Linked DNA regions of Homo sapiens. The protein of the gene in region 1 purifies or fractionates together with the protein of each later gene. This does not show direct contact. Each region holds a gene or a part of one and is shown on either strand. Other genes may lie near its edges.

What was found.
Region 2: the proteins of ST8SIA2 (region 1) and TMEM59 purify together in Homo sapiens (affinity purification with mass spectrometry; one large-scale study listed by BioGRID and IntAct). This does not show direct contact.

Annotation. Positions count from the first base shown.
Region 1 is NC_000015.10:92,463,105-92,467,134, reverse strand, and holds part of ST8SIA2 (alpha-2,8-sialyltransferase 8B isoform 1 precursor), read right to left. Parts: intron 3,036-4,030; coding exon 2,750-3,035; 3' UTR 1-2,749. UniProt on the Homo sapiens protein: Catalyzes the transfer of a sialic acid from a CMP-linked sialic acid donor onto a terminal alpha-2,3-, alpha-2,6-, or alpha-2,8-linked sialic acid of an N-linked glycan acceptor through alpha-2,8-linkages.
Region 2 is NC_000001.11:54,029,205-54,032,704, forward strand, and holds part of TMEM59 (transmembrane protein 59 isoform 2 precursor), read right to left. Parts: intron 3,102-3,500; coding exon 2,946-3,101; 3' UTR 1-2,945.

The DNA.
Region 1 (4,030 bases):
GCTTGAGGTGAATGGAGGTCGGAACCACTCGGGTGGCTGATGGCGGGCAGGCTGGGTATCTGACAGGTGGCAGGAGGTGACAGAGGGGTGCCTGTCAGCAGTGAGGGCTGGCTGAGGGTGGAGGCCCATTCTCCCGGGATGCCTGTGACCCTGCAGTTACAGCAGAGGATCTCGGGGCCGGGTACAGACTGTGTGACTCCCTGGGGCCACCCAACACCAGCTGGCCCACACCAGGAACTGCAGTGGAGGCTCAAATTGAACTCTGAATGGGCAGGGAAGGACAATTGGCCCAGATGGAGAAGGACAATGAGCCAGAGAAAGCCAAGGCCCCTGGAGCTCCGCCATCAAATGGCCAGGCCATTTTGGTAGTGCAGGACTCAAGCCGAGGAGGGGAACGGTGCACATGTTGATTGTCCTGGGGTCTCTAACCTTTCTCCAGAGAGAACCTGAAGGCAGGGTGGAAGGACTCCTTGCACTCCAGCTCATATCAGCTTCAATTTTAGGAGCCATGACTAAGATAGGCAGAAGGAAAACCATGTTCTGGTCCCCCAAGGAGTTCTGGCCCTTTGACTCCCCTGCAAAGGGATGGTGGGGTGCTGGCTTGGTGGATAGAGCTCAGGGCCAACTCCAGAACCTGACATGTAGGTTCTCCACAGTGCTTACCATGAAACATTCTGGAATCCAAGGCCTTGGTTAATCCACCAAGGCCCTGCTGGAAATTCTACCTGCTCCTCGGGGCACTTCAAGCTTTAGAAATTAAATGTCTTCTACGGTCTTTGAGATCCTCAAGATGAAAGGCTCTGGAGATGTATAAAATATGGTATTAATTATTTCCACCGCCTGTGAGGAGTCCGAAACCACTCAGTTCCCACAGAGGCTATTAGGGCTGTTGCTTTTTAAAATATTCATTTTATAACGCAAATCCCCAATCACAGACTTCAAGCAACAACAAGGGAAAATGCAGAGATATATCACCTTCCTCACGGTTTTGGGCTGGAGTGTTCTTGTGTAGGGTTAATGGTTCTGCCGCCTCCAATCCCTTCCGGTCAACCATTAATTTAGAGCCAAGGTCCTGTTCTGCATTGCCATTGATTAATTACATCTGGTCTCATATGCTTAGGAGCAGGTCTTGATTACTTTTCTTAACTCCCTTCACCTTCAAGATGGTAGTTTTTTACTTACCTTTCAAATATGTTTTAAAACACTGTTATTCATCAGGTGAAGGAATACGACTAACAAATTCAAGCTGGCTATTTCTCTATGTGAGACCTGTGATTCCAGCCCCTAAGTTGTAGGCCTCGAGCCCAGATTTCCCTGGGAGATTATGTCCACTATTTGGAACTGCATTTGGCTTTGGGTATTTTTTTTTTAATCTTAAATATTAATCTCAATAAGGGGAAAAGAATTTTGCAAAATTCTAAAATTGCTTCTGTGGGAAGAGGCGGGTACCTGGGGGTGGGGTGGACATTGGAACCTCTCCCTGCAGAGATGAAAACCTCAATGTCGGAGCTTGGGGTGGGCTAGTGTGACCATCAGGGTAGGAAAGTGACAAGAAAGTAACATTGACACAGCAGTCTGGCTGCAAAGGCCCCGCAGAGTGCAGAATGCAGAAGGCAAACAGAGAGTGGTTGCAGGGACATGGAGCTAGATGCTGAACATTCTTTCAGGTCTCACACTCTGGGGCTCTGTGAGGCACCCAAAAAGGCAATCATATGTATTTTAAGAAGGATGACATTTATCTTGACAGCACCCTTTCAAGCTCTCATTGTGGCTTCCCTGGTGACAGAGGGGACAGTACAGTCCCTCGTGACATTCTAACAGGGTGAGACAGAGACTAACCCAGAGGGTGAAATCCCAGGGTCTCTTCCTCCTCAGTGGACTCACATTGCTTTAAAAAACACCCAAAGCAGCTAGATTTTAGACACTCTCCTGCCTTATTCTAGGGTCAAGTGGGCCCTTAACAGGAGGTCTTGATTTTTCAAAAACATGATTCGGAACATTACTCCTCTTCATTGTCATCTGCTTGCTTCACCCAAAGTTCTTGGTGGCTCTTGCTAAGCCAGAACATGAACCATCCATTGTGTCTCCTCCAGCCTTCTCTCCATAGCCGTGGAGGCCTGTCTGAAACATGTGAGTCATTCGTGCTGTCCCTTAGGCAGTCAAACTCTACGTTCGTGGAACGAGGCCCTCTGTGCTGATGGGGCCTCTGCTGCTTGGTTTCCTTGTGCTCCTTTGCCCGGTTGAAGTCTCCAACCTCCCTCTCCTCCGTGAATGGCACCCACTTTAGACTGGGTCGAGTGTCCCCTCTGGGCCTCAGCTTTCTCCGAATCCACATATCCCAGAGGCTTGGGGCAGCTGACAACAGGTGGCTCGCCATTCATCCATGAGCCCAAAGATCCCTCCAAGCCAGGAGGCAGTTTGTCATCCAAAGTCATGGGACTGGCTTCTTTTCATGTCAAGTCCTTCCACCCCCAAAGATGGATTGAGTCTCAATCTGGTTCAGGTGGGTTCTCCACACCTTCTTCCTGTGGCCTATCTGCCTAATGCTAGATGAACACCACACAGTTATAAATACTCAGGTCAATATATATATGCAGGTATAGATATATATATTCTGGTCACTGTTTTACACTTTAACAAAGAAAACCACTAGCCTGCTTGTTCTATTGTTTGTGCCACCCCGACTCCCATCTGCCTGTGGTGTAGCTGGCAGGAAATGTGAGCCACTGAGTCCCATGGGGTGCCCACCCTACGTGGCCCCATCGCACTGGCCGACAGTCAGTTTCAAAGCCCCCTGCTCATGTAGGCTCTTGAGGGCCTTAAACTCCAAGGGCATGGTATGCGGGCTGGCCTGGGAGGTGTAGCCATACTTGAGGCTGTCATAATAGTGGTACTTGACTGGGTTCTGGTTCTGATCCAGCGGAAAGGGCCAGAAGCCGTAGAGGTAGATTTGTTTGCAGAAACGTGTGGCCAGGGTATACATCAAGAGGCCGGTGGTGGGTCTTTTGATGTGGACTTTGTTGGTCAGCCAGTATCTGGAAAAAAAAAAAAAAAAAAAAAAAGAAAAGAAACATGGGTCTGTGAGTCATCCTTTCCAGGAAGACAAAAATTTTATCCTGCCCAGCAGCCTGCCTTCTGCCACTCCAGGGACCGATCAAGCTACACATCCCTGGTTCCCTCCACAGAGGAGTGACAAGCACATGAAGCAACTGAACTGCTCCTTAGCCTGGATGCGGTCACAGACACGAGTTTATGAAATTCTCAAAACAAACCTGTTGTGGGTACAGATGCAGAAATGGGGCTCTGAGGTGAAAAATGGCTTGCCCAAGGTTACCTGGGTAGAAAGGGGCAGCACTTGACTTGAACTCAGGCCCGTGGACAGCTCAAGCAGGAGCTGGCAACCTTTTTCTGTAAGGGGCTAGATGATCAATAGTTTTGGCTTTTGGGCCACAACAATCCCAATACTACTTGACCGTTGTGTAGCTGTAGCATGAAAGGGCCACAGACAACACACATGGGTGTGGCCAGACTTGGCCCTTGAGCAGCAGTTTGCTGACCTCTGAGAAACCACTGGCTCTTGTGTGGTGCCTGCTGCCTTTCCAAGAGTCCCACAGGGCGTCCCCTCGCGGATCTGCATTCCTGATTCCATCCTTGCCTCCTGAGCGTCTTCAGATTTCCTTGCTGTCCCTGCTGCAGGACCCCCTCTCTGATACCCATCTCTGACCAAGGGTGACTACCCTGGGGGCCCTGGACACTGGTTTGCCATGCAAGGCTGGGTTCTGCCCACTCTCTTTCTTCTAAAGACTGCTCACTACATCTTGGTGTATCCACCTCTGAAACAGAGTCCCCGCTTCCTGCCTCAAGTCGTCTGTTAAAGGGTTACGAGAGGAAACAAAGAGAAGTGAAGAGAGAAGGGTGCAGGGTGCACCTTAGCCAAGAATGCAGTGAGGAAGAGACTATGTGCATTCCACAGACTAAGAAACATGCTCAGAGGGGGGAAGTAACTCAAGACCTGAGTTTTAGTGACAGT
Region 2 (3,500 bases), on another chromosome or scaffold:
GATAAGATTGACCAGATCATCTAGTAATTTCTGATTTACTACAAAACATATCACAAATGAAAGGTGCCCATGAAGTTTTGTGAGAAAACTTGGAACCTAGGCCCAGATCATTCATTATGGTGATTAGTACTGCTTTTGTAATTGCCTGAATTAGCATGTCTCTTAGATGAGGGACCTGAGCCAAGAAAGACCTTAGAAGTCTGGGAGGTTTGAACCAGAGACCCAACGGTCTTGAGAATTTGCCTAGGACCAAGACCAGATTCTCAAGATGCTTTCTGTGTGGTAGGAAATAAGATTATGACTGTTTTATGGAAACAAGGAGCTAAGTAAAGTTAGGCACATCCAAGAAGGGCAAAACTGTTACTTTAGGAGAAGGGGCTTGGAAGCTCAGTTTTGTTGCTTTGGTTGGGATTTTCAAGATCGGAAACATTTTTATGCTGTATATATTTTGGGGATTTTTTTTCAAAAGTAAAATATTTCTTCTCAAAAGTAGATTCTGTGCTTCAGAATTTAATTACCACAAGGAGTCAGAAAATCAACACTACAATCCAGCTTCCCAAACAGAAGACTATATTTCCCATTATCTCAATCTTTATCACTGTACGTACCCTGACCCTAGACTCTAGTGTAGAACAAGTAGTTAAGGGAAGAGAGATTAAAATGGTTACTCATGCTGATGATACTCAAATGCAAACATCAGTCTGGCTTAATTATGCTAAAAAAGAGGAGACAAATATTTGAGTGCCTGCTAAATATCAAGAATGTCTTGGTATTTTCACATATAAGGAATTCTCTCAACAAGAGGGGAGATATTTGTCTAAACTTGGATCAATACTTTCAAGAGAAATGAAGGTATCTCAGGCACTTCTCATTCAGGAAGCGAAGAGAAATGAAACCAAGGGAAGGTGGAGAATATAGGACAACTGTACAGTTGCTTTAAAAAAAAAAAAAAAGATGGGATTCTCATTATATTGCCCAGGATGGTGTTGAACTCCTGGCCCCAAGTGATCTAGATAATTCTTTGTTTTGTTTTTATAAGGGAGGGTCTTTTCTAACAGTGGGCTCTTTGATTCCTGTGAGACAGCAGCATTTTGTGTTTCTCTGTTTGCTTCATTGGATGCATTACAATTAAACCTGTGCCTGACTAAGGAAACTAAGTATGCACTAATGATGGGAGACGAAACAACAGGGCTTTTTATTTTTTTTTAATGGTAACTCCTATCCACTACCCATGTTTTATATAGTCCCCATGTTTGTTTGTATTTTTTTGTACAGAGAGGGTCTTGCTATGTTGCCCAGGTTGGTCTCGAACTCCTGACCTCAAGTGATCCTCCTGCTTTGGCCTCCCAAAGTGCTGGGATTACAGGCGTGAGCCACTGTGCCTGGCTGAGTCCCCACGTTTTATCCCATGTTTTCTAACAAAAAGAAGAAAGAAACAATGACTGCTTGACAATGACGGCTAATTCCTCCTTTCTTCCCCATCTGGATGTGTTCACAACTTTCTATCATCCAAATCTAGACAAACTAAAAATAAAAACCTACACTTTGTGACCAAAGTCTTCCTTGATTAGCTGTTAACTGCTTTTCATTTGGACTCAGGAAGGCTAAAGACTAGGCCATAGGAGGAGTGACTAACTTATTCTTTAGTCAAACAGCACTGATGCAGTTGTCAGCAATGCCCCTGTGACTGAGGAAAGTATTGTTTTACAAAGTTTTTAATATTTTATGGCATAATAACAGTGAATCATATTAGAATTCTGGTGTAGGCTGGGCACAGTCACTCACGCCTGTAATCCCAGCACTTTGGAAGGCCTAAGTGGGTGGATCACCTGAGGTCAGGAGTTCGAGACCAGCCTGGCCAACCTGGTGAAACCCCGTCTCTACTAAAAATACAAAATTATCCAGGTGTGGTGGCGCATGCCTGTAATCCCAGCTACTCGGGAGGCTGAGGCAGGAGAATCGCTTGAACCTCAGAGGTGGAGGTTGTAGTGAGCCAAGATCATACCATTGCACTCCAGCCTCAGCAACAAGAGCAAAATTCCATCTCAAAAGATTCTGGTGTATTATTATTATGACCTGATATCATTCTAATATTAAGCTCTGTATTATTGCAGGTAAAAATAAAACGAGTTTTTGCCAAGTAAAATTTATACTTAATTCTGTATCACAAGAGTCTAATTTTTAGTGTTAAAATGAAGTTTTCTCTGAAAATATGTTTACCTTATACTTGATATGCTATCTAACAGAGAAAAATAGTTCTTTGGAAACACTCATCAAACAAAAACCTATAGCCTGTGCAAAATAACATCAAATGTACTGCTGAGAGATCAGTTTTGCATCAAAATGGTCCCTGACCATCACATTATAAAGCAATAGCAATAAACACAGAACATTTCATAATTCTTATCTAGGTTGGGCAGGAATAGGAGGGAAGGTCTAGAAAAATCAGATACTCAAATTTCAGCACATAATTATTCAAATAAAATTTTAATGATTTCAGTTCCTGAAAATGTAGTGTCATTAAAGGTCATTTCCTGCTAAATTTCAAATTACAGATTTGTGGGCCATTCCTGAGCAGAAGCATCATTTCTACTAAATATTCAGCTTGTTAACTAAGGTAACTGACAGTATCATGGCAGGAGGTGAGAAGGAGCAATGATCAGCTCATAGCTAAGAAAAGGGAAAAAAACAATAACCAAAGCAAAAAACAAAATAGCTACAGATATTAGTAAAATAATAATACAATCCCAAACATCCACCTCTTAAATTACTACAAAAACAATACCAATAAAGTTATAGCAAATACAGTCTTCACAGATTTGAGTAACTTTATTTGCATTTTATAGTGATTTCTTAAGGCCTATATCCAATGAAACCATTTTAAAAGCTCTATGAGGAGTGGAATTTTAGATGTCTATTACACTTGTCTTTTAAAAGAAAAATGCTTAAATTTCAGAATGAGCAAGATTCACTTTTGTAGGTAGAGGCCCTGCTTCTTCATGATCTTCAGTTTTAGATCTAACAACCACAAGAGAAGAAGCTGGATATCTGTTTAGCTTTTGTTCATTCATAAACTCCAAGTCACCATAGATACTCAGCTTCTGCAAAAGAAAACCAATGTACATTAGTAGTCTGGATAATTAGGAACCTCTCCAAGTTAGTCTTTAAATAACAATTTAATTTATAAATAGTTGGTAAAAAAAATTCTATAAACAACTTTAAGAAAGAAGAATACTTTTTCTCAAAGTGTTGTAGATATGTGATTCAGCTCCCAATGGATGGCCAAAGAAAGCTGTTCCACGTCTCAAGTTAAAATCCTCAGGAGTATAACAATTGGGTATCAAGAAAAACAGCTATGGATGCCTTAAGTGATCAAGTCCTTCAACATCTTAGCTCTCCTACCAAGTGGTAAAATAATTTGGTGCAAGTTTTTCTGCTCCTAAATGTTTTAGCTTAACATGTATGGAAAATGATAGATGCTATTTGAAAAGGCTGCGAGA